Homo sapiens: one gene and its partners. The main gene of each other region encodes a partner of the protein of the gene in region 2 in a complex. Links are inferred from orthologs where the notes say so. Each region holds a gene or a part of one and is shown on either strand. Other genes may lie near its edges. The genes, in order: NTSR1, NTS and SORT1. A codon is read from its position in the direction of its gene.

Region 1 (10,373 bases), on a different chromosome or scaffold from region 2:
AAACTTGGGAGTCAGAACAGAACCTGATGCCGTGTTGGGCCAGTTCCTAGTTTAGCCTCAGCTTTCCCATCTGTGTGATGGGGTAGTGATAGCATTGACCTCAGAAGGTAGAGCATTGGAGAGAGGACGCGTGGGAAGTGTTTGCATGGCCCCTGACACATAGAAGGGCTCACAGGCACTATTATTGCGGGATGGTGGGGACGATGTTTCTGCGGGGAAGGTTGTGAGGATCTGCGTGTGGCGGCGGTGTTGTGGTGAGGTGTGTAAAACTGGAGCCGAGTGACTAAGGGCCCTCCAAGGGTCTGAGCAAAGCGCCGTGGGAATGCGGGTGGGAAGCCCCCTTGGGAATCAGTTTGGCTGAGGTTCGTGGCACGGGGGGTTCCAGTGCTGGAGGGGAGGGCTGATCAAACCAAAGCCCCGAGCAGGAGGCTGGTGTCCAGGGAGGAAGTCAGGGCCGGTCGGGAACTTTGAAAGGCATCTTGGAAATGAGCAGCCTTAGAAGTGTGGGGTTTCCTCCATTTCTGGTGGGCTAAGGAAGCCAGAGGGTGAAGGATCCGGGCAGAGTCGCCTACCTCTGCCCAGCTAGAGGGGCCAGGGTGGCTGGCTGTCCCCCCAACTCCCCACACACCAGCATCGCCAGCCTCCCAGCTAAGCTTCTGTAGTTGCCTGGGCACCCCGCGTATGCCAGTATGCCCGGTGGGGGTGAGGGCAGCAGTGCCGGGCAGGGGGTCACCTGTCTGTCACTCCCTGGGCCCTAACTGACCCTCCACTGGCCACCACCCAGGTGGGCTGGGGGGTGGAGGAGGGTAGAACTGAGCTCCCAGTCTCCCTGGCTGCACATAGAACTGGTGGCTACAGGTGTCCCATCTCGGGGAGGCCCCTCCCACAGACACTGGTGGCAGGCAGTGAGTCAGGGCTGCTTTGCTTCTGCGGCGAGAGTCCCTCCCCTCACCAGAGGCAGAAGTAGGCACGGCCTGTGGGGTAAACACAGTGAGAAATGACCTCTCCCTCCCTTTGAGGCTTTATCTGCTCTCCCCAAGCTCCTGTCTTTGATTGGCATTGGCCAGGGGGAACCTCTCCCCAGTCCGCGTGGAGGGGCCCCAGGGGCGACAGCCACTCAGTCCTTCAGAAGGTGGGCAGTGGAGGGGTCAGCGCTGTCACTGCCCACCCAGGAGATGCCCCCACTCAGACCCCGGATCCCCCCACTCAGACCCCCGATCCCCCCGCTCAGATCCCCGATCCCCCCGCTCAGAACCCCGATCCCCCTGCTCCCCTGGCAAAAGGCCAGGAGCTCACCAGCCTCCTGCAGTCCTCAAAAACAAACAGCCGAAAAGCACAGGGGCGTGAGGACAGCTCGGCTCCGCCCCCCGGAAAGTGTCCTCCCCGCGTGCGTGGGCTCTCTGCCAGGTACTTGGGATTGGGCACCTGGGGGACATCACTTTGCCTCCCAAAGCACCACCTGCCCAGCCTTGTTGCTCAGAGGCTGCGAGGCAGATTTGGCCAAGTCACGCTACGGCCGGCCACAGGCACTCGTCCAATCGCAGAGGCCTGTGACGTATCAACCGTAGGACAGCGGCCCCACGCCCTGCAGACGCCATGCTGGCCGAGCGTTGCTGAAGGCACCCTTGGAGAACGTAGTTTCCATTTTTCTTTAAAGGGCTCAGCTGCGTGCCTGGGAGCAGCTGATTACAAGGGTGCTCCTCCATCCGATGCTGATGACCTGGGGCTTTCCAGGGCCCCGATGCCAGCTGCTCTGTGTGCTTGAAAAGAACATTCCTCGTAGGAGAGGCCTTGGCTTCCCCTGACCCCTGCCCCGCCATTTGCCATTTTATGAAAGGTTTCCCCGGAATTAGGGGGTTTACGGTCCCCACGTGGGCTTCTGGGCCATTGGCAGATCTGGGCAAACATCCACGGTTTTCAGATGGTGATGTCTGGCTGAAGAGGGGCTGGATACCCTGAGCTAAGTGTCTCCCTCTCAGTGACCATGTTTGGAAGTGTTGGGGCAGTGGCCAATCAAATGGCCCCTCTTTCCAAAACAGGGGTCCTTTCCTGCCCCAGCGTCTCCTACGAAATTTTGGCCTGGGCACTTGCAAACAGAAATTGTGTTTAGAAATGAGGTGGTTCAGTGATAACACTTTGGAGCAACTTACAATAATCCTCCCTGAAGCCAGCTGGGCATTTTCCTAGTGTGTAGCTGGGACTGGGAGTTGATGGTGGAGTGGGCAGGGCTCTCAGGTCAGCAGACAGGACCTGGTGCCCAGGACCCTCCCAAAGGCCCCAGACCTGGCCCTGGTGCCAGCAGGGTGACTGGGAGGAGGAGCTGGGGGCTCAGGGACCTACGGGTGCCCCTGGGTTCCCCTGGACTGTCCTACCCATCCTCTAACCCACCCGCACACGTGGCCCCACACGGGCAGATGGCCCTTGCTTCTTGGATGGTCCCCCATGGCCCAGGCCCAACCTCCAGCTCAGCTTTGACCTCGGCTGTGACAGGGTCCCAGTGGCACACGATCTGTGTGGCAGGGCTCAGGGCTGATGGCCCAGATGGTGGGTCATCAGAGTCCCATGCTTATCTGTCATCTGTCCATGGCGTGTATACTGAACGTGTGCACACATGTGTGTGTCCAGGGGCCCACAGTGGCAGGGGCCTGGGACTTCAGGTGTCCGATTCAAATCAGATGAGGTGGCTGCAGCCTTTGAAACAGTTTTAGAGACCCGCCCCTGACTATGGCCACACACGAAAGCAAACCCTCCCAGCCTCACAGGCACGAGTCCATTAGACCCTCCTGAGCAGCCGTGAGGACTCCTTTCATCATTGCCATTTTCTGCACCAAGGGAGTCCTGCTCCTGCAGGCTCAGCCTCCCTGCCTCCTCCTTGTTTTTTCTGAAAGCCTTCTTCATATTGAGTACAAACAGCAGTGCTCTTCGCTGGGTTAGACCCCAACTCAGAGGGCACCTGCTCCCTCCCAGGGGCAGACAGGGGCCTCAATTTGTGCAGGAGGCGCTGGTGTCCTACAACCCCTGCTCCAGAGGCGTCCAGGAGCAGACAGATCACAGGGCGACTTGGCAAACACCCCAGCCGTTCAGGGCTGGCAGAATTCCGGGAAAGGAGAGGCGGCTGAGACAGGGAAGGAGACAGGTTCCAGTGAAATCTGGCCATGGATTATTTCAGGGCTCCTGTCCCGTGCCCCAGGCTGTGCCCAGCAACCTCCACAGGCAGCATCCTTGTTCTTAGGAAGGATACAGAGGTGTTTAGAGTGTGGAGTCTGCAACTTATTCTCAAATCATTCAGAAAGAAAGGTGTGGCCAAATGGAAGGAGAGCAAGCAGACAGTGAATCAAGGGAGGAGACTGCTTGCGGGTCATGCGGCATTGGGCTGCAGCCCTGCCACAGGCAGCTGAGTGTCCTGGGCATTCTTCCTGCAACTGTTCTGCAGTAGGAACTTTTTCAAGTTAGAAAGTTGCAGAAGGCCGGGCGTGGTGGCTCACACCTGTAATCCCAGCACTTTGGGAGGCTGAGGCAGGCGGATCACCTGAGGTCAGGAGTTCAAGCCCAGCCTGGCCAACATGGCGAAAACCCATCTCTACTAAAAATACAAAAATTAGCTGGGCGTCGTGAAGGATGCCTGTAATCCCAGCTACTTGGGAGGCTGAGGCAGGAGAATCGCTTGAGCTTGGGAGGCGGAGGTTGCAGTGAGCCAAGATCACACCACTGCACTCCAGCCTGGGTGACAACTGTCTCAAAGAAAAAAAAAGTTGCAGAAGAAGTTCTTCAAGGGGTCCTTAGGAACAGCCTGCTCCACTCTGACCTCCCGTGAGGACGGGAAGGGGACCCACGCCACGCAGCTGTGGGCAGCTCTGGCTCTGGCCGTAGCGGCCACAGTGTCCTCACCTGCAGCGCAGGGCATAGAGGGCTGTTGGTGTGGGGCCAAGAGTCACACACTTCCTCCAGTCTGAGCCCATGACCCTTTAGAGGAAAGGAATGGAGTATTTTTCCTGCCTTTTCTATTCAAACGGTACTTTAGAATAACCCAAGAGTAGATAAAAGGCAGTGTCTCAGCCCAGAAATGTTCATCAATAAGTGAAGAAGGAGCAGGATGGTCAGAATACCACCCATCAGGTGCAATCCTCATAAATCAATGGATGTAGGCATGGATTCTTGACAGCTGCTGGGGTCACGAAGGGGAGAGAGTTAGGTGTGAGGTGAGCCCTGGTGTGCACACAGCCTCGTGGCATCCTTGGAGCAAAGCCATTGAATCTGAATCTCATGGAGCCCCTGATCCAACACACAGGACACACCAGGGACAGAGGAACAGGGACAAATGTACCATTAGGATGCAGCCAGCAAAACCCAGACCACAAGAAACAGCTCCAAATAAACAACTCGTTCTGTTCTACAAACAGTGAGGGAATCGGAGACGGTGGCCTGGTTTCTTAGCAAAGACTCGGACAAGTCAACCTGTCGCAGAAAGCCGGCACCAAAGCTGATCATTCTTCCTGCCAAGAAACAGCAAAAAAGCCTAGGTAGTGAATAGCTACAAATTCTTGTTGTCCAGAGCTGTTGTGGGTATGGTTTTCAAAATGGTCCTGCTCTCTTAGAGGTACATGCGGAAATGTTTACAGACAAAATGATGCAATGTCTCAGATTTACTGAAGCGTGATCTGGGGGAAGGGGCTGTGGGAGGGCTACAGAGGAGACAAGATTGGTCTTAAGTCTGTAATCATGGAAAGTGAGTGTTGATGACATTTTTGGCATGTTTGAAAAATTTAGTAATTAAAAGTTTTCAAAAGGTTAAGGTGCTATATGTTGGAAATAAAGAATTTGGCGTATGAAATCACCGTTCAGATGGTGACTCTGAGGCTGTGGGGGGTGAGAGGGCAGGACAGGGAGGTGACCTTGGCCTTGTTCCAGGCACCAGACCTGCCTGTTGGAGCCAGGTGGGAGACGGCAGGGTGAGGACGTGCAGACATGCGGGTCCACCTCTGTACCCCGTAACCCCGTTTCCCAGATGAAGCAGAGGGCAGAGCCACCTGTGCACATCACGTGGCTGGAGAGAGACAGGGCCTGGAGGTGCTCTCAGAAGGGAAGGCCTAGCCTGACCCTGTGGTGCTCCCCGTGGGGACAACGGTCAGGCTTTTGAGTGAGATGGGCAAGGGTGGGAACGTGAGGGGCCCAGAGCTGGCCATGGCTGGCTCTGACTGGGCTTGGAGTCCTCGAGAGTGACTTGGCCCAGAGTGGTTCAGGCTCACCTGTTCACAGCTCTGCATTGTGACCCGGGGTCAGCTCTCCCGGGCTGTCCTGCACTTGGACTGACAGCATTCTGAGGATGTTCAACTCCAAGGACAAATGGGGTCCTGGGGCTGTGCCTGCAGTTCTGTGGGTACTGAGGGCAGCAAGGGGGTACAGCCACCCTGTGCTTGCCAAGAACCACCACAAGCCACCCCACAGGTGAGGCAGGCCTCAGGCAGCAGCCCAGGGATCTCCAGGTCTGTTCTCAGGGGCACTGGGGCTCCCAGCTGGTAACATCTGATGATGGGCAGAGAGGGCCCTGGGCTGAGCAGGGCCCGAGAGGACGTCCGACCTGTGCACGAACCAGAGGCTGCCTTCGTTTTTCTCAATCAAATCTCACGTGGTGATCTAGTAGTTTGTATTAAGAGAAGAAAGAAGCTTTTCTTTATTTTTGATTCATGGTGAAACACACATCACTTAAAATGTGCTGTTTTACCATCTGGAAGGGCACAGTTGAGCGGCGTGAAGCACGTTCACATTGCTGTGCAACCGTCGCCACCATCCACCTCCAGAACCTTCTCTCTCCCCAGACTGAAACTCTGTCCCCATTAAACCCTGACCCCCAGCGCCTGGTAACCTCTTTTCTGCTTTCTGGCTCGGTGAGGTGGATGACTCAGACTGGCAGAATCTCAGGCCTCCCCTGGGTCTTCTCTAAGATGCAGGTTCTTGAAGGCAGGCTTGCTGCTGAAAGACGCCAGACTCCAAGGCCCTGGGTGATTCCAAGCACTTGAGGTTCTGGACAACGCTGAGCCGTTGGGACAGGAGGAAGGTCGGAGGAGGGGTGGGGTGGCCATAGGGGCGCTGGGAACTCTGGGGTGACGGAAATGTTCTGTATCTTCGTTGTGGATCATAGCTCGTGGTTTCAGCGCGTTAGTCCCGCCTCCGTGAGTCTGTGTTGGTTGTGGTTCAAAGCTCGTGGGGCTGTAGACTGAGGGGTGGATTTCAGCGCGTGTTAGTCCTGCCTCCGTGAGTCTGTGAAAAACAACAGCAGCAGAGAGTGACCGAGCTGCCGTCCGCTCAAGGCTGTTTCGGGTGGCCAGGTCCTCCCTCCTGTGGGCCTGTGTGCACTCAAGATCGTCCTCCCCTGGACGGCCATGAAGGGCTGTGAAGAGCATGAGCCCCCATCCCGGCAGCCCCTCGCTCCCTGACCAGGCTGCTGCCTGCACGAGGCTAGCTCTGCAAGGGGGGCACGGAGGGGAATAGAGATCCTGGTTCTTGGCGCTTGGTGGGGATGGTGTTACTGAGGTCACAGCCATGGGGTCTGCCTGTCTCAGAGACCCCCACTGTTCCCCCGCCATGCCCTGGAGTTTGACCTTGCCATCGCCAGTGAAGGCGCAGTGGCCAAGGGGCTGTCCCCGTCCATGTGTCACCCCAAGGGGAATGCACAGCTCCGGAGGGGGACCACCGGGCTCTGCAGCGTCAATGAAGAAACTGAGGCCCAGAGCGGGGCAAGGCGCCTGCCCCACCCTGGTGCCCACTGCTCTTCCCAAAAGCATTGCCAGTGGGGCACCACCCACCCCAGGAGGGCAAGGTGAGAGCCCTGGGTCTGGAGTGCCACGTGGACCTGGCACAGGTTGGAGAGGGGAGGTGCCCAGCATGCTGACCCACCCGAAGCCACCCGTGCCTACTTTGGGATTTTACATCCCTGTGCACCTGTGGGGGCTGTGTCCTACATACCCAGGGCTGGCTCCTGAAGGCAGTCAGGGAAGCAAGAAGGAGATCAGGAGAATGCTTCCCGAGAATAGGTGGTTTTGGGTTGTCCCCAGTGGCTTGGAATGGCTGGCTTGCCAGAACCCAGGTTCAAATCCCAGCTTCACCACTGGCCAGCAGCACGACTCTGGGCAAATGGTGTGACCATCTGTGCCTCTGTTTCCCCATAAGCCAACTGGAGGTAGCGATTGCCCTGCAGTCTCATGAGTTAATGACATAAAACGCTGGAGACTGTGCCTGGGGTGGAAGAAGGACTCAATCGCCCATGAGCATGATTTGTGTTCTCCCCTGGACAACGGCAGAAATGCAGCAGCGCTTGGGAGGGCTGGGAGCCTCCCCAGGCAGGAGGAATTCTCTTCTGAGCATCTGGGCTAACATCTTTCCTTCCTTCCTTCATTCACTCATCATTCATTCACTGAACACCTACCACATGCCAGGATGGGGGTATAGCAGCCCAAAAAAACTGGCAAAAAGTTCTGGCCCTTTGAACTCACGTCCCATCAGAGAAGACAGAAAATAAGCGAAATAAATAGGCACCATACATGGCCGGCAAGGAGTAACGAGAGCCGCAGAGAAAACCACACGGGGGGAGCGTGGGGGTGCAGGCAGGTCAGGAAGGCCTCGTGCAGACCCTGCAGGAGCACTCCGGTGGGCGTCGGGGAAGATGCCAGGTAGGGGAACAGCAGGTGCAAAGACCCCAGGGCAGGCACGTGCTGGGGGTGCTGGAGGAACAGCGCTGGCCTGGCGGGGTGGCCGGAGCGGAGGGAGCAGAGGGCCGTGTGAGAAGCCACGGGCAGATCATGCCTCGTAGACCTCGCCACAGCTTTTATTCTGGAAGAAGTGAGTGGGCGTGGGAGATTCTGAGCAGAGCCGCCACGTGACTTACACGTTAAAGGGACAGTTCTGACTGCTTTGTGGAGAATGCATTTAGGGGTCAGAATGGTTGGGAAGCTGCTGCTGGATGCCTGGGGAGTGACCAAGGAGTCCTAGGCCAGGGTGGGGGTGGAGAAGGTGGCGGAGAGGGGTTGGATACCAGAGACGTGCTTTTCGTTGTTCCTACTTCATTTTTCGACTGACAGGCAATAAGATTCCCTTCTGTGCTTGTTCGCACCTATGAGCTTCGATAAATGCAGCCATGTATCCCCACTTCAGAAGACACACCGGCCCCCGCCCTCCAGCCCTGTGGCCCACCCGCCCCGATGCCCGCCCCTCCACCCACTGGTCCGCTCTCCTCCCCCACAGCTTTGCCTTTTCTGGGACGTCGAGTGAATGGAGCCAGCTGGGCTGTGGCCTCTCGAGCCGGCCTTCTTCCTTCACTGCATCCTCTGAGCTGTTGCCTGCATTGACCAGGCGTTCCTTTTTATTGTGCAGTCAGATCCATTCTGTGGATGGACCACGTTTTGTTGAGGCATTTGCCCACCAAAAGACTTCTGGGTTGTTTCTGGGTTTGGGCGATTATGAATAAAGTAGCTACAAATATTCACATATGATGAATTTTGTGTGAATATACATTTTCATTTCTCATGAGTAAATACGTAGGTTTCAGATTGCTGGGTCATACAGAAAGTGTATGTTTGCCAGTGTTTCCTAAGCGATGCGCTGTTTTGAACGTCCCTCACCCTAGCCTTAACCCACATGAAGCAGTGGTCACTCTGCATCCTGGCCAGCTCCTGGTCTTGCCTCACTGCTCTGGCTATGACGTCCAGTATGATGGTGAATAGGAGTGATGAGAGTAGACATCCTTGCCTTGCTTCCAGTCCCTTTTTTTTTCTTTCAAAAAAAAAAAAAAGTTTTTCGTTTATTTAAGTTTTTGTTAGAGCTCTTTATAAAGTTAGGAAAGTTTCCTTATATTCCTAGTGTGCTGAGAGATTTTTTTCTTCATCGTGAATGAATGTTAAATTTTGTGCAGTGATTTTTCTGTCTCATCATGTGGCAAGATCATGTGGATTTTCTCCATTAGTCAGTTAATGTGGTGAATTATATTGATTACTTTCCAGTTGTGATAAAATGTACATCACGTAAAATTTACCACTTTAATCAATATAAGTGCACAGTTCTGTGGCACTAAGTACACTGTCACATGACCATCTCCACCCTCCCTCTCGGTACATCGTCATACGATCATCCCCACCCTCCCTCTCGGTACATCGTCATGCGACCATCTCCACCCTCCCTCTCCAGAGCTCTTTTCATCTTTCCAAACTGAAGCTCTGCGCCTGTTAAACACTAACTCCCCATCTCCTCCTCCCCCAGCCCCTGGCAACCGCCATTCTACTTTTTGTCTCTGTGAATTTGACCACTCCGGGGGCCAAATATAAGTGGAAAACCTTGGTTAATTCTTGAATGATGAACCAGCCTCACATTCCTGGGATAGACCTCATTTCGTCGTGTATTAGCTGGTTTTGACTTGCTAGTGTTTTGCTGAGAATTTTTGTGTCTATGCTCATGAGAAATATTGGTCTGTAAGTTTATTTTCCTGGGTTATCTTCATCTGGTTTTCTGGCCTCATAACATGAGCTGGGAGGTTCTTGTTCCTTTTGTGTTTTCTGTCAGAGGTTGTGTAGAATTGGCATGATTTCCTCTTTAAAGCTTTGGTAGATTGTCCAGCAAAACCATCCGGGCCTGGAGTTTTGTAGGAAGGTTTTTATAAATTCAATTCTTTTCAAAGAAACCAGGTGTAGTGGTTCAGGCCTGTAATCCCAGCACCGTGGGAGGCCAAGGAGGGTGGATCACCTGAGGTCAGGAGTTTGAGACCAGCCTGGCCAACAGGATGAAACCCTGTCTCTACTAAAAATACAAAACTTAGCCAGGTGTGGTGGTGGGCACCTGTAGTCCTGGCAACTCGGGAGGCTAAGGCAGGAGAATCGCTTTAACTCGGGAGGTGGAGGTTGCAATGAACCGAGATCACGCCACTGCACACCAGCCTAGGTGACAGAGCGAGACTCCATCTCACAAGACAAATTATTTTAAAAGATAAAGGAATATTCAGGTTATATATTTCTCCTTGAGTAAGTGTTAGTAATTTGTATCTTTTGAGGAATTGGTCCATATAATCTATTTTGTCAAATTTTAGAGCATAGATTTATTTGTGGTATTCTGTCATCATCCTTTTAATGTCTGTGGGGTCAGTAATAGTGTCTCCTTGTTCATTTCTAATATTGGTAATCTGTGACTTCTCTCTTTTCTCCTTGGGCAATATGGCTAGGATTTTATTAACATTATTGTTCTTTTTCAAGAATGAGCTTTTGATTTCATTGATTTTTTTTCTATTGTCTTTTAGCTTTCAATTTTATTTATTTATATTTCTTTCTTCATTTCCTTTTTCTGCTTGCTTTGGGTTTAATTTGCTCTTCTTTTCCTAGATTTCCTAAGGTGGG
Region 2 (10,549 bases):
TCTTTAACAAAAAAGCTTAGCATGTTGCACAAAAGCCAGAAGACCAATGTGCTTGAAACATAGGAACAGAAGGGGAGAATGGTGGAATATGATGATAGAGAGGAAGACAAAACCCACTCAGGTAGCATAGGCCATCATCAGGCATGACAAGAGGAAACCTTTAGAATGTTTTAAGCAGAGAATGACAGGAATAGATTTACATTTTTAAAAACTTTTCTGGAGTTTTTGAAAGCTGAAAGGGATCAAGGTTGTAGGGAGACTACTCAAATGGTTATTATGGCAGCGCAGGAGAAAGATGGTGGTGGCTTGGACTTAGGTGGCAAAAATGACATAAGGAAAAGTAGTTAGATTTGAAATATATTTTGGAACAGACCTGCACCCCAGGGGGTTTTGCTAGCTTGGAAGTGGAGGGGAGAGAGAAACAATGTAAATGGATTCTAGTTTTTAGATCTGTGCAACTCAGTAAATCATGGTTCTAATAATTGAAATGAAAAACTCTAGAGGGGCAGAAGATTATTAGAAAGATGTTTGGAGGAATCAAAAGTTTTACTTTAGACAATAAGTCTGCCTAATGAAACTCCAAGTAGGGCTGCTAATGAGGTGATTGCATATACAATTTGAGTAGTCAGAGATACAAACTTGGAGGTTATTAGGAAATAGATAGGATTCAAAACCATAAGACTTATCAGATTCACTGGGAAAGCACAGTAAATTTAAAAAGAATCATAAACCCAAGGAGTATGAATAATATAAAACCATTACATTCCAAATTTAACATGTAATATCTTCTTGAGAAAAAGAAAAAAAGTGTTTCACTGAATTTGCTCCTGATAGACGGTAGCTCAAGTACATCTGCTCTGTTTCAGGTATTGCAGGTGCTATGGAAATTTTCTTAGACTTTGTAATATTAAAAAAGAAAAGAGAAAGTTTTCTTATAATAAGAATTTGTCTCATTTATTACATTAGATAATTACACTAATTTATAAAACTAAGAAACATGAAAGAAGAAATTTGTCAGGAACATTTTTTTCTGTAATACTTTTATTTTGGTCTTATTCAAAAGGGAGACCTATAAGGAAAACTACCTGAGCATTACACATAATGGGTGGTGATTTTGTGAGTATTTACATTTTTTCCTAGACACGAGAAGCAAGATTATAGGTGAAGTCAGCAATGGCTGCAATGTGGAGCATGGTTAGTTAAATACAGTAACTCATTAACATGTAAGTCCCAAGCAAACCGTATTTTGTAATTACGGTTTAAGTTGCAAAATATGCTTTGACTACAGAAGTCAGTCATCAATTTTTCCAGGTTAATTACCTATATGGATGCAATAACAGAGATAGGAAGAGCTGAAAGGAAATGAGCTAGGAATTTGTAAGGATTATGGGCAAAGCAAGGTTACATGCAGATTGGGAAACTGAACGTTTGTTTACATTTACCTAAATCTCCAAGGTTGGGTTATACACATCCTATGTGGGTGTATGCATGCACACATCCATCTGTATTTCTAGAAAATATACTTTAATTGAACAGAAAAATCAATTGGGTTCACAGACTTTGACATCATTATTTGTTCAGATGAATCAGAGTTACAGCTTCAAATGATAGACTCATTTATAGAAATGGAGCAAACTCACAATTTATCTAAACATTCAGCTGATGATTGTACATGATCCAAGGACAATCTTCTTGAATGATTTTTTTAAAGTTAACATTTCCAGTCAGAGAGGAAAAGGATGATGAGAGAAAAGGCTGAGAAAACTGACTATAAAAGCTCACATAAAATATGAAGATTAATGATAACAAAAGAGTGTTAAAAGGTGTGGCTGAAAGAAACATTTAAAATTAAAACATGGAAAGGGCATGTAAGAAATTAAACGTAATCAGTATTTTCATTTAATTTAGTAAGTATGTATTGATCACTTATGGATTATAAACCTTAGAAGTCAGAATGTTCTCCTTCTAGCAGTTTACAGTTTACCATAAACTGTATAAACAAACTACGGAGCATTTAACAGAAAACTAGGAAAAATAGAAGTAGACGAGACTACTTTCAGGACTCAAACTTGGAAATGTTTTTGTTGATTAAGCCATAAAATACAGGATGATCATAGGAAGGTGAAGGGGAGATTCCAGGTTGTAAAAACACAACAGGCCAAGTTTCAGGTATTTAGGTTACCAAAAGATTGGAAAATCCTGGAAGCTGTTAATGAGGTATTAAAGTCACCAGAGCTATAGGAAAAAACCATAAGGAACTGAAAAACCAACCCTTGATCAGTTGGTTCCAGAGCTTGCCCTTCTCCAAACAAAATAAGCTTACAGACCACTCTTTCTAACTGCCAATTCTTCAGGTGTCTCTGTTGATTATTTTCAGCAATTACCTAATAAAGGTCTGACATAAGTAACAGTACAAGCTTAGAAATCTACCTACTTTAGAGATGTTGTAATCAACAGGTACCTAACAGGTAACATCCACTTAAGAAGGCCAACACAGGAATATTATTAAAGGACAATGCTTAAAATCTTTATCAGATATTTTAAGAACTAGGTAACCCTTAGAAGGATCTAAGGTATGCCGGGCATGGTGGCTCACGCCTGTAATCCCAGCACTTTGGGAGGCCGAGGTGGGCGGATCATGAGGTCAAGAGATCGAGACCATCCTGGCCAACATGGTGAAACCCCGTCTCTACTAAAAATACAAGAATTAGCTGGGCCTGGTGGTGTGCCTGTAGTCCCAGCTACTCGGGGGGCTGAGGCAGGAGAGTTGCTTGAACCCAGGAGGTGGAGACTGCAGTGAGCCGAGATCACACCACTGCACTCCAGCCTGGTGACAGAGAGAAGCTCCATCTCAAAAAAAAAAAAAAAGAAAAAAGAAAAAGGATCTGGGGTAAAAAGCCTTTAAAATAAAAACAGTTCACCCATCTCCATAGCAAGGTGTCTACAATCCTGCATTAAAGGCATCATTTAGGAAGTTCGTAGGGTACTTTTTAAGTGGAAAAATACATACTTAACCTTTATCCCTACAACAAATTGTTTTATTGGTTTATGTGTAGCTTGAAGGCATTAGATTAGAGCAAGAAACAAAAAGCCTAACACATTAAAGAAAATACCAATTAGAGGTCAAAGTTTATCTACATCATAATTTTACCAAAGTTATACATCTTTTTTCCCCAAAAGAAAAGTAGCATATAGCATCTATTTGAATTTGAATTATTTGACATAACTTAATGTTTCCCCTATTCTTGAATATTTATCACATATCTCAATTTTCACATTAACAACTAATATCCATGTTATATATTTAAAATGAATTTCCATTAATTCTTCTCCCCCTTTTTTCTAATTAATTAGGGATCAATTTTGTCAACATATTGAAGAAATCATCTGAGGAAAATAAGAATCACATTTCCTTTTTACTATTAGACTGCTATCACACATTTTAAAAGATCATTCTTTGTATTTGCAATTCAAAAGCAGAGAAAACAACTAATTTAATTATCATGCAAAGTATATATAATTTTCCCGATTTGTTAATCAAAGTGGCTTTAAGAGGATTCTGTCACAAAGATGCTCTGATAGTAACAGGAAAGTAAGCACAAATCCTCACTGAGACTCTGTTAAGTGAAAACCAAGTGTTTCAAGCTTCCATTGCTCCCCCTAATGGTAGGAAAGCAGAAAACATCTAGACGTATGTATTTCACATTTGTCAACTAAATACTTTACAGAAACCTTCCTCCATGTGAGTATGTTCAATATTGTGTTTTATGTAAGTTCAGAAAACAAACTAAAAGTAATAAATATATCAGTTATTATTAAATTTCTGGTATTATATGAAAGACTCCTTGCTATTCTAAGTAATTATTAAATGTTTGGATTTAATCGCTTTGCTTAAGTTTTGGGTAAAGGTGAAAAAGTTAAACTCATAGATTGTATAATATAAATCAATTATCTATAGGAACCAATCCTATTTTTTCTCAACTGTTACTACATGATTGATTTATTTAAAAATTAAACAAGACTCAGACAACTTTACATTCAAATATTCACATCTCTAACAGCACTGACTTGTCAAATTACCCCATGTATCTTGAAATGCTTACTACAAGAAGAAAGTTTTACTCTAAAAGGCATTTTGAACAATTTTCTTTTGAGAACTCAGACAAAGAATGGGTATCAGTGTAACTCATGAAATACATGAAGACTATCATAGAAAAGTGACTTTGGTGAATGGTGGTTATTTAGGATTGTCTCCTTTCCAAAAGTACAATCTCTTTTTTTATGGTGAAAAGAGTATTATAACAGGGAAAGAAAGCCGATGCAATAGTAAAAACTGTTGAGAAGGGAATTATACAAAGAGTGAGACATGGCATCAAGAATGAATTCAAAAAGAGCAGAAAAATATAGGCATAAAAAGAGATAATGTACAGAAAAAAAGTCAGTGATACAACAACACAAATTTTTACCTGCTAGAATGTAAGTAATTTAGAGCTGGATTTTATAAACATGAAATTGTTTTTCTAATACATTCAACCAAAAGTCAGCACACATAGTTCAGTCATCTCTCATTACTTACAATAAAATATTTTCTATTTGTTAGGAAATAATATCTTATTCCCTGGATCTATTATTTCTTTTTATTGATTTTCTTTCTATTCTCTAAACTTAATTGCTTAATTTTTATAACTGATTCTCTGTCTCTATTCCATCTTATTCCAGCATGGATTATTTAAAACCTGTATTAGTTTTGGAACCACTAAACATTTGCTCAGAAGTTTGAATTACCAGAGAAGCACCCTAACTCTTCAAGAACTTCCAAGCCTAAGGAATCACTGATTTCATGCATTCATCCTGGAGATTTTCCTTAAAAATTAGAAATAACAGATCTCATGTTTCACAAAATCAAAATGACAACTTTTGGAGTGGGGGAATGAGAAGTGGGAAAAGGATGATACTGGGGGTTCTTTGTCAGTATGCTGTATGTATGCTGTATGTCAGTGCAGTTGAATGACTCCTTCTGTGCGTCAGAAATCCAAAGCAGCAGCAGCAGCAATTAGGGAAGATCGTCACTTTCACTCAAGGTTCAGAAATGGGGGAGGAGAGCAGGGGGGACAAAGGAAAAGGGGAGGAGAAAGCAGGGCAAAGAGGGGAGGGATGGAGGTGAAGATAGGGCACATCCTGCAAAGATAATGTCTGTACAATCAATGACATCATCCTCCTGCTTATATATATAGGGGAATGGCCAGAGCACCTCTCATAGTTCACTCACTTTCAAAGCCAGCTGAAGGAAAGAGGAAGTGCTAGAGAGAGCCCCCTTCAGTGTGCTTCTGACTTTTACGGACTTGGCTTGTTAGAAGGCTGAAAGATGATGGCAGGAATGAAAATCCAGCTTGTATGCATGCTACTCCTGGCTTTCAGCTCCTGGAGTCTGTGCTCAGGTAAGCAAAACAGAATTTCACAACTCCCTGAAGTGATTTCTTTTTTCTCTTTTGCAGTGTGTTGCTACTTATGTTAATGTATCTGGGGAGAAGAGTTGCTCCCTTTTATTCAGGATTTACCTTTTAGTGACAGAAACTGAGTATCTCTTTCTCTGCCTTTATGATTACTGAGAGATGTATTTTCTCTTTTAAAATCTGCAAAGCAATAAAAGGGATTTCAATGAAACACTGCACGACCTCCTTTGGAATTCAACAACTAGAGGGAAAAAAACCCTACAAAACTTTCAATTAGGCTGATCATTATCTAATGAGAAATACAGAGGCAGTGGCTGTCAACCTGCAAACCCATCATTAAATCCCATTCCATTCAAAATGTTTTACTCTCATCCTCATTCATTCTCTTAGGAAGCGGTGGCCCTCACGCCCTTGTAATAGTCCCCGTATTATTTTCTTGTTTGTGTTAAGATAACAAATAAAGTGAAAATTGATACTTAGTGAAAAATGAAGCATTATTTGTAGAAAATTATTTCTAGAAAAATACAAAAATATTCCAGATCCTTTTTGAGAACAGAATTTGCATAGTCTAATAAGTGTGCTATTAATATAACTGTTTGGCATTTTTTCCATGCCATTTAAGTTAATACAAAATACAATTGGAAAATTGGTATTCTTATATTGATGGAAATTATTTGACTTTAGAGTGTTTTGCATGTGGTTTGAAAGAAGTTATATAGTCCTAAGTATCTACGAATAACTCACTTTGAAAATAAGACTTAAATTGAAAGGTATAACATGAAATATTACAACCATTGCAAAAGGCTCTACTTAATATTTAAGAAATATTACAATGAACACTTCAAAGGGAAAAGAACACATTAGGAAGCAAATGCAGCAAAAATAATTTAACCTGTTCTGTGCTTTTATGTATCATAAATATGACATGGAAATGTTTAACTCAAACTCATGCTATCATTTGATTTAAATTATGAAATTAAAATCTAAGAAGATATAAATGTGATTTATACAAAATTTTAAATTTATTTTAATCATCAGAACATAACTTTCAGCTTCTACTTTTTAAATCTTATGAGAAAAAACAAACTTTTCTATAATTATGATTTTATCTGAAAGTTATATGAGATTAAAGATTCACATACTTCTGGAAGAAAAACTGGGTTATTGATTAAGCACTGTGTTTATTAACTTGAAACTACTTGTTGTAATAATGCAATAGTTATAAGGATTTTGGTATACATTGTTCATAAATTCCTAAAACAGATTATGTCTCTAACAAATAGTGAGAAAAGATCTCTTGTATAATTTAGGTTCTAGGTAAAATTAAGCCAATGGGTTCTCCAATTGTGGCATTTCTTTTTACTGAGTGTGTAGTACAAGGAAGATAGAGTCATTTTTAACTTTATTTTTATTATTGTATAGTATTTTCCAAATTTTCCTTCTCTGTAAAATATTCATTAACAGAAACTTGGATAGAGTTTTTTAAAAATCCAGAGATCCATTTTCAATGCTGTTGTACATGTGTTGTTGAACAGCTCCACTTTTGCTTTAAACAATTTCCTTAAATGCCTATGAAAAAATTGAGGATACATAATTTTGAATTCTCTTAAAGTACAATACAATTCTTTCAACGTGTGTTTTGTAAAAAACATCTCAAGTTAAGTAAACCTCAGTATCTTTATTATTCTAAAATTATCAGTAAGCAATTCCCTTTGGTTTTGTCTTGAAAAAGTCTCTTGTATAGTCTTCATTATGTTGTGTTTTTAAATGTTAATATGCATATTTTCTATATATGTAAACTGTGGCTGGTAAGAAATAAGCTACTCTAGCATATTTGGTAAAATATGTGTTATACAATGTAATCACATTTTTAAAGCCTGAAATTCAAAGATTAAACAACTCCCAGTGATCAATAGCTGTCTGAAAAATAATCATATGCTTATTTTCTTAGAAGTGCTTCTACTATTTTAGCTTCCTATTATGCTAAAGTATAACTATAATTTGTTTTTTAGGATTACTATTTTTAAGAAAATACATAAGAAAGACACTAACCTCTAAGATTTTTTTTTAGATTAACCTAAAATCTGTAGATTATGATATAATTATATGATATGTAATTATAGTAAACCTGATTTTGATTTTACTCAGATTCAGAAGAGGAAATGAAAGCATTAGAAGCAGATTTCTTGACCAATATGCATACATCAAAGGTAACTTTTTCTTTTCTTTAACCCTGAGTTGAAGAACATATGAACTTTCATTATAAACATGGTATCCTTTTCCCATAGTAATAACTTCTCATCAAGATTGAAAAGTTCCTTGAGAGGCATTTCCTTTTTGAAAAAAAAAATTTCTTTTAGTTAAAAGAAGTTAAAGGTGTTGATATGACAGGCAAAGAAATTATAATTCTATCAATCAGCATGTTGCAATTTTAATTAATTGCCACACATATTTACTTGCCTGTAAATGTTTTTAAAGGAACTTGCTTCCATGCCTTTTACATTGGGTATGATGAAAGGTATATTGGTCTCAAGTTAAATGAAAACAAAGTGAGCTCTTTGCCTTTTTTATTATATTGGGGGAAATAAAAAGGTGTTCCTAAATTAGAAATAAAAGTTCATGACAACCTGCAAAAGAAATGTAGTATAGAGGGGATAGCAATGGACTGGTAAGCAGGAGCATTGAGATCTAATCCTGAAACAGTGACTTATTAAATATTTTATCTTTAGCAAGTGGATTAGTTCACCTTGCTTACCTGTGTTTCCTTGTTTTTAAATGCAGGGATTGCAGTTCGTAATCTTCTAGACATTTACCGTTCTACAATGTATTTAGGAATTACTAAACTGTACTCTTCATTGTATGTCTGGATTTAAATTCTCCCTATAACAAACATGTTATTTTTACATGTTCTTTTTTTTTTTTTTTTTAATTGAGCCAAATACAACTTTGTATCCTGGGCCCTATTACTCCTCTATTGGGGTCTTGAAAGCCAGTTTTTAAAATTCCAATCTGTACCTAGGAATACGTTCTGGGGTACATGGGCAGGATGTGCAGGTTTGTTAGATAGGCAAACATATGCCTTGGTGGTTTTCTGCACCTATCAACCCATCACCTAGGTATTAAGCCTAGCATGCATTAGCCCTTCCTCCTCCACTCCACCCTCTGACAGGCCCCGGTGTGGGTTGTTCCCCTTCCTGTGCCCATGTGTTCTCATTGTTTAGTACTCAATCAGAATACCAATGGCTACAACCTCTTCAGTTCAAAAATAGACAACTGAAGTTAATAGTCCGTGTTAGAAAATGGGATAAGTTAGGTGTCTTGGTGTCTTGGTATAGGTTTACCTAATTCCCAGATGCAAGTTAATACATGAAGGTTCTATATAATCTGTGATGCTACCCATAACAATTATTAATGTGTGGAATGCATTACTAGCCTCATACTTTGTAATTGTCCACATTTAATAATACCATCTTTGTCACTGCTCCATTACATGTTAAGCTGAAATGTAATAGAGACAGAATAATTTTTTATTTTTAATTTTTCATCTGTGATATATATATCATTTATATATTTCTGCCATCATTTTAATTTCCTTGCTTTCTTACTTTGCTCTGTGTGTACACACATAAGTGCATGTATATGTGAATATAACTATTGCATTTTATTAAACAGAAGTTATGAGATATTGGCAGTATACAACTTTGTGAACTGATGTTACTAAATAAATAACACTATATTTATTAGACTGGAGTAGCAATTAGACCCTAAATGTGATGGTTTAGCACACTAGGAATTCATTTCTTGCTCATGTAACACAAGTTTTAATTGCAGGGGTTTTTTTAATATATTTCAGATTAGTAAAGCACATGTTCCCTCTTGGAAGATGACTCTGCTAAATGTTTGCAGTCTTGTAAATAATTTGAACAGCCCAGCTGAGGAAACAGGAGAAGTTCATGAAGAGGAGCTTGTTGCAAGAAGGAAACTTCCTACTGCTTTAGATGGCTTTAGCTTGGAAGCAATGTTGACAATATACCAGCTCCACAAAATCTGTCACAGCAGGGCTTTTCAACACTGGGAGGTATAGCAATAACAAAATATTAATATGATTATAGTTACACTAGTTAGCTCTCATTTATATTAATTTCTTAAATTCCCAATCATAATCATAACAAGAAGAGTTACAAGTATTGAAGAAGAACAAGCCATGTTTTGAAGTCAACATTGCTTCAGATCTTCAAAGTGTCCTTCAAATATTTGAAACTCAGCAAAATATGTTTTTCTTCAATATTAAAAAGAGGATATATCTTAAGGCAGATTTGATCCACATGTTTTTATTATGCTTAAGTGGATGGCATGTTTAGACAATTTTTGTTGTTGTAGGTGGTGGCATGTCTAACAAATTTAAGCAACTCAAAATGTTGTCTTAGAAACACAAAGTCATATGTAGTGATCTATAAACAAACACAGAATATAAAGTTTCCAAGTAAAACTGGAATAAAACATAAATATTTGTATTTAAATATATTAGGCAAATAAAAATATATTTTTATGTACATAAAATATATTTTTATGTATATTTTAATGTACATAAAATATATTTTTATGTATATTTTATGTACGTAAAATATATTTTTATGTATATTTTATGTACGTAAAATATATTTTTATGTATATTTTATGTACGTAAAATATATTTTTATGTATATTTTATGTACGTAAAATATATTATATATATATTTTATGTATGTAAAATATATTATACATAATTTTATGTATATTTTATGTATATACCATATATTTTATGTATATTTTATGTATATAAAATATATTTAATGTATATTTTATGTATATTTTATGTATATAAAACATATTTTATGTATATAAAATATATTTTTATGTATATTTTATGTATATAAAATATATTTTTATGTATATTTTATGTATATAAAATATATTTTATGTATATTTTATGTATATTTTATGTATATTTTATGTATATTTTATGTATATAAAATATATTTTTTGTATATTTTATGTATATAAAATATATTTTTTGTATATTTTATGTATATAAAATATATTTTTTGTATATTTTA
Region 3 (10,373 bases), on a different chromosome or scaffold from region 2:
TGTGTGTGTCTTGCACACCTACGCCCTCAGTCAGTAGGAGCTGTCAGAGGTAAGCAACCAGATATTCTCCACTCAGGACCAGGGAGCTCTTTGTTTAGGACAAGATACTAATTAGCCAAGAGCACAGGTTCAATTTCACCATGTGTTCATTGGCTTAAGGAAGAAGGGAAAACATCCTTTTCCTAGACTTCTAGCTCAGTTGACCGGCTCTCAAATGCATATTGCTGATAAACCTAGTTTCTGGCTTAGTATGTCGTATCATCTACTGGAAAAATGACTCAAAGGCTGTGACCTAAAGACAGTGGATTAGGTTTTATCCTTTGGGATATGAAGACCAGCATACAGCCTGCTAAAGAGCAGGTGCTTAACAAATCTTTTAATGACATTACACTTTAGGGGTAACTGGGAGCTGCCTGCTGAGGGGAGAACTCCCAAGCCAGCTTCTGTACAGTCTACTGAATGGATTTAGATGACAGCGACCCTCAGGCATTAAATCTATTTGAACGTCTTATGGAAATGTGAGGTCCAAACCAAGGGTCTGCTCCTTCAGGAGTCACTAAATCAACACGCTGAGGAAATGAGCCCACGACAGTCTCAAAGGACCAAATTCAACTAGAGTGTCTAGAAACGTTAAGTCTTTTATTGTATTATGCCAACACTTAACTACAGGTCATCCTTTTTCCAGTGTTTTTCTTTATCCCCCTTCTTTTTTTTTTGAGACAGAGTCTTGCTCTTGTCGCCCAGGCTGGAGTGCAATGGCATGATCTTGGCTCATTGCAACCTCTTCCTCTCGGGTTCAAATGATTCTCCTGCCTCAGCCTCCCAACTAGCTGGGACCCGCCACCTTACAGGCACCCGCCACCTTACCTGGCTAATTTTTCTATTTTTAGTAGAGATGGAGTTTCGCCCTGTTGGCCAGGCTGGTTTCGAACTCCTGACCTCGTGATCTGCCTATCTTGGCCTCTCAAAGTGCTAGGATTACAGGCATGAGCCACCGCGCCTGGCCATTCCCCTTATTTCTTAGCATAATGCCAGCATCTTTGTTTGGCAGTGAGGTTAGGGTTTGCTTGTGACACTTTGGAAACACTGTGCAATGAACATTGTGAATCCTTTTCTGAACCTATTTTCTGGGCCGTTAATATTGCTTAATGTTGAAATGATAATATTTTGGATATATTAAGTTTATTTTATTAATATCACCTTTCTTTTTACTTTTATAATATAGCTGACAGAATAATTTAAATGACATATGTGGCCCTCATATTTCTCCTGGACAGTGCTAGCACCGAGGAGGAGGTTGTTTTTCTGATGCCATTCCATTACTTAATCACCCACACAGAACATCTGTCAATCCTCTTTCATATGCATATGCATCTGCTGATTCCAGCTAAAAGAAATTAAACCATATTGATTATTTAGGAAAATGGACTTGGAAGTTTCTGGTAGAAAAGGTCAAAGGAGACACTCACAGTTCCTTTCAAGGATATCTTTAAAATCAATGGTGTAGGAGACCCACTGGCTGGTCAGGAAAGATTCTGTGAAGCCCCAAATGCTGATATTCATGGACCTAGCTCCAGGTTCTGAAGCTAGGCCAGTGAAATAGATGGGGTCCCTGGTGAACGTGTAGGTTTGCCAGCATTGACCTTCGTCTGTGGAGAACCTGAAACCACAATTACAGAAAGATCATGACAGAGGATCAATGTGTACTGGGAATTCAGAAAACCACTCTGGCTTTTTGATCCCAAACCAGACAAAACCCCTTACATTTAGGTGGTGGCTTATTGGCTGACAATTATTTTAACTTTTTTTTTTTTTTTTTTTTTTTCTGAGATGGAGTCTCACTCTGTCACCGGGCTGGAGTGCAGTGGCGCGATCTCGACTCACTGCAACCTCTGCCTCCTGGGTTCAAGTGATTCTCTCTCATGCCTCAGCCTCCTGAGTAGCTGGGATTACAGGAACGTGCCACCACACCAGCTAATTTTTGTATTTTTAGTAGAAATGGAGTTTCACATGTTGGGCAGGCTGGTCTTGAACTCCTGACCTCAGGTAATCTTCCCACCTTGGCCTCCCAAAGTGCTGGGATTATAGGCGTGAGCCACCGCACCCAGCCAACTATTTTAACTTTTAACGTCTGTAGTTAACAGGATAAGGAAGAGATTTGTTCAGAGAGAATATGAAAGTAAATACCTTTACAGAAATTATTTCAAAGGAAAGACAGGAGAGTGACCCAGGTAAGAACTGGCTTTTAAATTAATAAATTTAAGGCTGGCTGTGGTGGCTCACGCCTGTAATCCCAGAATTTTGGGAGGCTGAGGCAGGTGAATCACCTGAGGTTAGGAGTTCGAGACCAGCCTGACCAACACAACAAAACCCCGTCTCTACCAAAACACAAAAAACAAAGCAAAACAAAAAACCACAAAAATTAGCTGGGTGTGGTGGTGCATGCCTGTAATCTCAGCTGCTCAGGTGACTGAGACGCAAGAATCATTTGAACCTGGGAGGCAGAGGTTGCAGTGAGCCAAGATTGCACCATTGCACTCCAGCCTGGGTGACAAGAGCAAAACTCCATCTCAATAAATAAATAAATAAATAACAATCAAATTATTTTATAAGAACTTATACTTCTTTTTTTTTTTTTTTTGAGACGGGATCTCACTCTGTCACCCAGGCTGGAGTGCAGTGGTACGATCTCAGCTCACTGTGGCCTTGACCTCCTCAGGTGATCCTCCCACCTCGGCCTCCCAAGTAGCTGGAACCAAAGGCGTGCACCACCACGCCCAGCTAATTTTTCTTTTTTTTTTTTTGTGGAGACAGGGTTTTGTCACATTGCCCAGGCTGGTCTTGAACTCTTGGGCTCAAGCAATCCACCCACCTTGGCCTCTCAAAGTGCTGGGATTACAGGTGTGTGCCTCTGCACCCAGCTCAGAACTTGTACTTAAGAAGTCATTTTCAATCTAGAGTGCTTGAACGCTTCCATAATAATTTTGTAGACAGAAAGAATATATATATATATATATATATATATATATATATATACATACACACACACACACACATATATATACACACATATATACACACATACACATATATATACACATATATATACATATATATACACATATATATACACACACACACATACATATATACACACACACATATATATATATATGGTTTTTTTTTTGATTGAAATAATATTAGAGACAAGGGACAAGGTCTCCCTATGTTGCCCAGGCTGGTCTTGAACTCCTGGCCTCAAGCGATCCTCCTGCTTTGGCCTCCCAAAATGCTGGGATTACAGGCATGAGCCACTGCGCCCAACCCAGAAAGAATGTTTTTAAGAAGTGACAAATATGTTAGCTAAAGGCAGTCAGAAGAAAAAACAATGCCATTTAATCTGAGTTGCCAATTAAAAGCAATCCTTTCTAGAATCTTATCTATAGTTCTGTCAAATGCAAAAATTTGAATTATAGTCTGTAACATCCCCCCAATAAACTGAAGAACATTCCCCCAGTTGCCCTCTATGCAGACAGTGTGTGTGAGATGAGTTCATGCATACTTAATCACATTGATAGGACGGCTGCTGTGCTCAATGGCCACAATGATGCCTCCAGAATCCAGGATGGTGTAATAGTGGGGTCCTTCCAGCATCTTTGTCCAGGAGTAACCCCCATCATCTGAGATGTACACATCTGGAACCATCACTGAGATGGCATCCCCCACGCTACCTGCAATATAATCCACCATCTCATTAGCACAAATAGGCAATGAAACAGAGAGCATTTACTCCAGAGAGAATAATGTTGAATGAATTTATTCTGATTATTTCCCATCAAGCCTCTTTTAGTAGGAAAGAAAACCACCAAAAACTTCGGAGAAGTTGTGTTGCTCTCTCTGATAAAAGTTGATGAAAAACCCAAAGTGTTGTTATAATGTAAGAAATTCTACCAAAGGAATGTAAAAGCATCCACATTGTTTCTTCTCAGAGCGTTCAAAGCCTGTTGGCTGAGTTTCAGTGTGCTCAGCCACTGTTCCAGTTGGAGGTGGTGAGTGGGAGGTTCCTTACCATGAGCAATGACAATGCCTACGGCATTCGGCTCTGAGAGTGGGGCCATTGGAACATTCAGTTTCTGGGAGATGCTGTAGGAAGCATGAATATGAAGGCTGCACTGTGAAAAGAAACAAAAGCGTAGATTAGAACCAAAGATAAAGATACAATTTCTTTAATCATTTCACAAAACCCTTCCAATAAAGCTTTAAGTTAACCCAGACCTAGGTAAAAGTACTATCTTAACTATTTATTTACTATTTAGGTGTATAGTTCAGTAGTGTTAAGTATATTCACATTGTTGTACAACCACATCTCTAAACTTTTTCATCTTATAAAATACAATCACCAATTAAGCAACTGTTACCTACTTCTTCCTCCTCCCAGCTCCTGGAAACTACCATTTTACTTTGTGTTTTCTATGATTTTTACCATATTACTTTGTGTTGGCTACTCTAGGTAGCTCATATAAGTAGAATCACATAATATTTGTCATTTTGTGTCTGACTTATTTCACTTGGCATAATGTCCTCAAGGCTCATCCATGTTGTATTAATAGCATATGTCAGAATTTCCTCCCTTTTAAAGGCTAAATATTATTTAAGTGTGTGTGTGTATCTGTATCCACACACACCCCACACTTTATTTACTCATTTATCTGTCAATAGACACAAGTTGCTTCTACCTTTTGGCTATCATGAATAATGTTGCTATGTACATGGTTGTACAAATATCTTTTTGAGAACCTGCTTTCAACTCTTTTGGATGTATAATCCAGAAGTGGAATTGCTGGATATGATAATCCTATTTTTAATTTTTTTTAGGAACTACTATGCTGTTTTCTGTAGCAGCTGCACCATTTTACATTTTCACCAAAAGTGCACCAGGGCTCCAATTTCTCCATATCCTTGCCAACACTTTTTAAAATAGTAGCCACCCTAATCTGTGTGAGGAGATACCTCATTGTGGTTTTGACTTGCATTTTCCTAATGATTAGTGATGCTGAGCCTCTTTTTATATGCTTGTTAGTCACTTCTATATTGTGTTTGGAGAAATGTCTATACAAGTTCTTTGCCTATTTTTTATTCAGGCTATTTGTTTGTTGTTGAGTTGTAGCTCAGTGGCATACTCTTGATTCTGAAATGTACTACAATATCTGGAAGCAAATATTTCCTCATGGGTAACCTGTCTCCGTTTATTTTATTTTTGCATTACATCAAAGCCTCTGAACAATGTTTAAAGGCTGACTCTACACAAATAAACTTGATAAGCACCTGATATACTTCAGACACCGTACAAGATGTGATGGTGGTTCGAAATAAGATCCAGTCTTGTCTTTAAGAAACTTAAAGGCTCCAGGTCCACTCTCACAGACCCAGCCAAGTGGACCCCTGCATCAGGCCAGCCCCTGCAGGCTCAGGGTAGGGCCCACCCCTGCACCAGGCTGGCTCCTGCAGATCTACTTACCGGGCTCCAGGTGTTTCACCTGAAGACCCACTTAAAAGGTCCACCCTAGTGGATTCCACTGCCAGGCCTGCCGCAGAGGACCCAGCCTCCAAGCTACCCCCAAAGACCAAGGCACCAGGCCCACCTACCTGCAGAACCTGTCAGTTGCCCCCCCAAGAATCTCTGGATGAGCTACCTGGTAAGGGCTTCCCCTGCTGAAGCCATCTGTAAAGGCCTATGTGTGTAAGAGGACACATAGGCTAAAAGTAGAGATAAAAAAAAGATATTCCACTCAAATGGTAGCCAAAAGAGAGCAGGGGTGGCTATATTTATTTATTTATTTTTGAGACGGAGTGTCGCTCTGCCACCCAGGCTGGAGTGCGGTGGTGCCATCTCAGCTCACTGCAAGCTCTGCCTCCTGGGTTCATGCCATTCTCCTGCCTCAGCCTCCCAAGTAGCTGGGACTACAGGCGCCTGCCACCACACCCGGCTAATTTTTTGTATTTTTAGTAGAGACAGGGTTTCACCATGTTAGTGAGGACGGTCTTGATTTCCTGACCTCGTGATCCGCCCGCCTTGGTCTCCCAAAGAGCTGGGATTACAGGCGTGAGCCACCATGTCCAGCCGGGGGTGGCTATATTTATATCAGACAAAATAGACTTTAAGTAAAAAACTATCACAAGGGATAAAGAAAGTTACCACACAATGATAAAGGTGTCAATTCATCAAGAGCATATAACATTGGTAAATATAAATGCACTCAACATTAGAGCACCTAAATGTATAAAGCAAACATTAACAGAACTGAAGAAAGAGGTAGACGACAATACAATAATAGTAAGGGACTTCAATACTTACTTTCAATGATAGATCATCCAGACAGAAAACCAGTAAGGAAAGAGCAAACTTGAACAACACCATACAAATGGACCTAACAGACATATACAGAACATTCTATCCAATAGCAGCAGAATATACATTCTTTTCAAGTGCACAGAGAATATTCTCCAGGATAGTGCATATGTTAGGCCACAAAACAAGCCTTAACAAATGTAAGACTGAAATCACCTCAAGTATCCTTTCTTTTTTTTTTGAGACGGAGTCTCACTCTGTCACCTGGGCTGGAGTGCAGTGGCGTGATCTTGGCTCACTGCAAGCTCCGCCTCCCGGGTTCAAACAATTCTCTGCCTCAGCCTCCTGAGTAGCTGGGATTAAAGGCACCCGCTGCCACGCCCAGCTATTTTTTTTTTGTATTTTTAGTAGAGACCAAGTCGGCCAGGCTGGTCTTGAACTCCTGACCTCGTGATCCACCCACCTCAGCCTCCCAAAGTGCAAGGATTATAGGCGTGAGCCAGTGTGCCTGGCCTCAAGTTCTTTTCAACTACAACATTATGAAACTAGAATCAGTAAAGGGAGGAAAATTGGAAAATTCACATGAATGTGGAAATTGAACAACATATTCTTGAACAACCAATGAGTCAAAGGGAAATAAAAAAAACTTGAGACAAATGAAAAGGGAAACACAACATATTAAAACTTAAGGGATGCAGCAAAAGCAGTTCTAAGAAGAAAGTTTATGGTGATAAATGTCTACATTAAGAAAAAAGAAAAATCTCAAAAATCTTAACTTTATACCTCAAGGAACTAGAAAAAGAACAAACTAAGCCCAAAGTTAGCAGAAGGGAGGAAATAATAACAGAGCAGAAATAACTGAAATAGAAGTTAGAAAAATAACAGGAAAGATCAATGAAACTTAGAGTTGTTTTTTTTGACAAGATAAAAAAGTGACAAACTTTTAATTAGAATAAGAAAAAAAGAAAAGACTCAAGTAAAATCAGAAATGTAAGAGGAGACATTATAACTTATACTACAGAAAAAACAAAGGATCCTAAGAGACTACTATGAACAACTATACATCAACAAATTGGATAATCTAGAAAAAAATGGATGAATTTCTAGACATATACAGCTTACCAAGACTGTATCATGAAGAAGAAATAGAAAATCTGAACATACTAATATGAGTAAGGAGGCTCAATCAGTAATCAAAAACCTCCCAACAAGAAAAGCCTAGGACCTGATGGATTCAATGGTGAATTCTAGCAAACTTTCTTCAAAGAAGAATTAAGACCGATCCTTCTCAAACTCTTCCAAAAATTGAAGAGAATGGAACACTTCCAAACTCATTTTATAAGGGTGGTATTACCCTGCTACCAAAACCAGACAAGGACACTAGAAGAAAACAAAATTACAGGTCAATATCTCTGATGAACATAGATGCAAAAATTCTCAACAAAATACTAACAAACTGAATTCAACAGCATATTAAACAGATTATATACCATGATCAAGTAGGATCTATCTGTGGAATGCAAGGATGGTTCAACATATGCAAATCAATAAATGAGATATGCCACATTAATAGAATGAAGGATAGAAATCATATCATCTTGATAAATCCAGAAAAAGCACTTAACAAATTTCAACACCCATTCATGATAAAAACTCTCAATAAATTAGGTATAAAAGGGATATACCTCAACATAATAAACCCATTCATGATAAAAACTCTCAATAAATTAGGTATAAAAGGGATATACCTCAACATAATAAAGGCTATATGTGACAAGCCCACAGCTAACATCATACTCAAACAGTCAAAAGCTAAACCTTTTCCTCTAAGATCAGGAATAAGACAAAGATGCCCATTCTCACCACTTCTGTTCATTATAGTAATGGAAGTCCTAGCTGGAGCAATTAAGTAAGAAAAAGAAATAAAAACAAAAAGCATCCAAACCAGAAAGAAAGAGGTAAAATTGTCTGTCTGCAGGTGACATGAGCTTATATATAAAAATCCTTAATCTTTAAAGACTCCACCAAAAATGTTAAAACTAATAAATTCAAAAAAGTTGCAGAATATAAAATCAACATATAAAAATACAATATACACTAACAACAAACTATCCAAAAAAGAAATCAAGAAAATTTCATCTACAATAGTACAAGAAAAAAACTTAAAAAAAAAAAACAAAAAAAACTTAGGGATAAATTTAACCAAGGAGGTGAAAGACTAAAAACTACAAAACATTGATGAAAGAAATTGAAGATGACAAAAAAAAAAAAAAGGAAATATATCCTATGTTCCTGGATTGGAATAATTAATATTGTTAAAATGTCCATACTACCCAAAGTGATCTACAGATTAAATGTAATGCCTATTATTTTGACTGTCTTTTTTTACTATTATATGGTTATAAATAACCCTCTTTCTGTGACAACACAGAACAATCCAAACACGTTAATTCATCAGATGTTTACTGAGTACCTGCTATATTTCAGGCACTGTTTTAGGTACTTAAGGTACATCAAGAACAAAACAACCAGTTGTGGTGGCTCACATCTGTAATCCCAGCTGAGAGGCTGAGGTGGTAGGATCACTTGAGGCCAGGAGTTCAAGACTAGCTTGGGCAACATGGTGAAACCCCATCTCTACCAAAAAGTACCAAAATTAGACAGGTGTGGTGGTACACACCTAGCTACTTGGGACGTGGGAGGATTGTGTGAGCCTAGGAGTTTGAGGCTGCAGTGACCTATGATTATTCCACTGGACCCCAGTCAGGGTGACAGACTAAGACTTTGCCTCTTAAAAAAAATTCCAATGGTATTTTTCACAGAAATAGAAAAAATCCTAAAATTTATATGGAACCACAAAAGACCCTGAATAACCAAAGTAATTGCAAGCAAAAAGAACAAAGCTGGGGGTATCATGCTACCTAATTTCAAAATATATTATTGAGCTATAGTAATCAAAACAGCATGGTACTGGCGTTAAAAACAAATAGACCAATGGAACAGAATAGAGAGCACAGAAATAAATCTATGCATTTATTGTCAACTTAACTTTGACAAGGGTGTCAAGAACACACAATGTGAAAAAGACAGCCTCTTAAATAAACGGTGCTGGGAAAACTGAATATCTATATGCAGAAGAATAAATTTCAACCCTTCTTTCTTTTTTTTGAGATGGAGTCTTGCTCTGTCGCCAGGCTGGAGTGCAATGGTGCGGTCTCGGCTCACTGCAACCTCCGCCTCCCAGGTTCAAGCAATTCTCCTGCCTCAGTCTCCCAAGTAGCTGGGACTACAGGTGCACATCACCATACCCAGCTAATTTTTGTATTTTTGGTAGAGACGGGATTTCACCATGTTGGCCAGGATGGTCTCGATCTCCTGACCTCGTGATCCACCCTCCTTGGCCTCCCAAAGTGCTGGGATTACAGGCGTGAGCCACCACACCTGGCCTCAATCCTTATTTCATGTCATGTACAAAAATCAACTCAAAATGGATTAGAGACATAAATGTAAGACTTGAAACTGTAAAACTACTAGAAGGAAATATAGGGAAAAAAGCTTCTTGACATTCATCTGGGCAATGGCTTTTTGGATACGACCCTAAAAGCACAGGCAACAAAAAACAAAAACAGACAAATCAGATTGTATCAAACTAAAAAGCTTCTGCAAAATAAAGGAAACCACCAAAAGAGAGAAGACAAACAATACACAGAATGGGAGAAAATACTTGCAAACCATACATCTTATAAGGGGTTAATATCCAAACAAATCAGTAGCAAGAAAACAAATAATCCAACTAAAAAATGGGCAAAGGACCTGAACAGCCATTTATCAAAAGAAGACATATAAATGGCCAACAGGTATACGAAAAAATGCCCAACATCACTAATCATGAGGGAAATACAAATAAAAACCACAATGAGATATTATCTCACCCAAGTTAGAATGGCTATTATCAAAGAGATAAAAGGTAAGTATTGGCAAGGACATGGAAAAAAGGGAACCCTGTACACTGTTGGTGGGAATG

What was found.
Region 1: the proteins of NTS (region 2) and NTSR1 are in contact, whole or in part, in a crystal structure (PDB 4BUO), measured with the Rattus norvegicus proteins. The link is inferred for Homo sapiens from one-to-one orthologs. Residues at the interface, in NP_001095851.1 of Rattus norvegicus: Arg157, Arg158, Pro159, Tyr160, Ile161, Leu162; in NP_001102437.1 of Rattus norvegicus: Ser53, Asp54, Leu55, Asp56, Asn58, Phe128, His132, His133, Tyr146, Met208, Val224, Cys225, Thr226, Pro227, Ile238, Arg327, Arg328, Phe331, Cys332, Tyr333, Ile334, Ser335, Asp336, Trp339, Phe344, Tyr347, His348, Tyr351.
Region 3: the proteins of NTS (region 2) and SORT1 are in contact, whole or in part, in a crystal structure (PDB 4PO7), measured with the Homo sapiens proteins. Residues at the interface, in NP_006174.1 of Homo sapiens: Leu152, Tyr153, Glu154, Asn155, Pro160, Tyr161, Ile162, Leu163; in NP_002950.3 of Homo sapiens: Val112, Ser113, Leu114, Ser115, Trp116, Lys260, Tyr304, Ser305, Phe306, Gly307, Leu308, Phe314, Ser316, Arg325, Ile327, Phe350, Tyr351, Ser352, Ile353, Tyr395, Gly399, Thr570 (codon at 1,596), Gly571 (codon at 1,593), Leu572 (codon at 1,590), Ala573 (codon at 1,587), Trp586 (codon at 1,548), Trp597 (codon at 1,515).

What each region holds. Positions count from the first base shown.
Region 1 is NC_000020.11:62,710,353-62,720,725, forward strand, and holds part of NTSR1 (neurotensin receptor type 1), read left to right. Parts: intron 1-10,373. UniProt on the Homo sapiens protein: G-protein coupled receptor for the tridecapeptide neurotensin (NTS). Signaling is effected via G proteins that activate a phosphatidylinositol-calcium second messenger system.
Region 2 is NC_000012.12:85,869,039-85,879,587, forward strand, and holds the start of NTS (neurotensin/neuromedin N preproprotein), read left to right. Parts: upstream 1-5,256; 5' UTR 5,257-5,365; coding exon 5,366-5,438; intron 5,439-7,601; coding exon 7,602-7,663; intron 7,664-9,306; coding exon 9,307-9,531; intron 9,532-10,549. UniProt on the Homo sapiens protein: Neurotensin may play an endocrine or paracrine role in the regulation of fat metabolism. It causes contraction of smooth muscle.
Region 3 is NC_000001.11:109,323,430-109,333,802, forward strand, and holds part of SORT1 (sortilin isoform 1 preproprotein), read right to left. Parts: intron 4,173-10,373; coding exon 4,070-4,172; intron 3,732-4,069; coding exon 3,563-3,731; intron 1,661-3,562; coding exon 1,470-1,660; intron 1-1,469.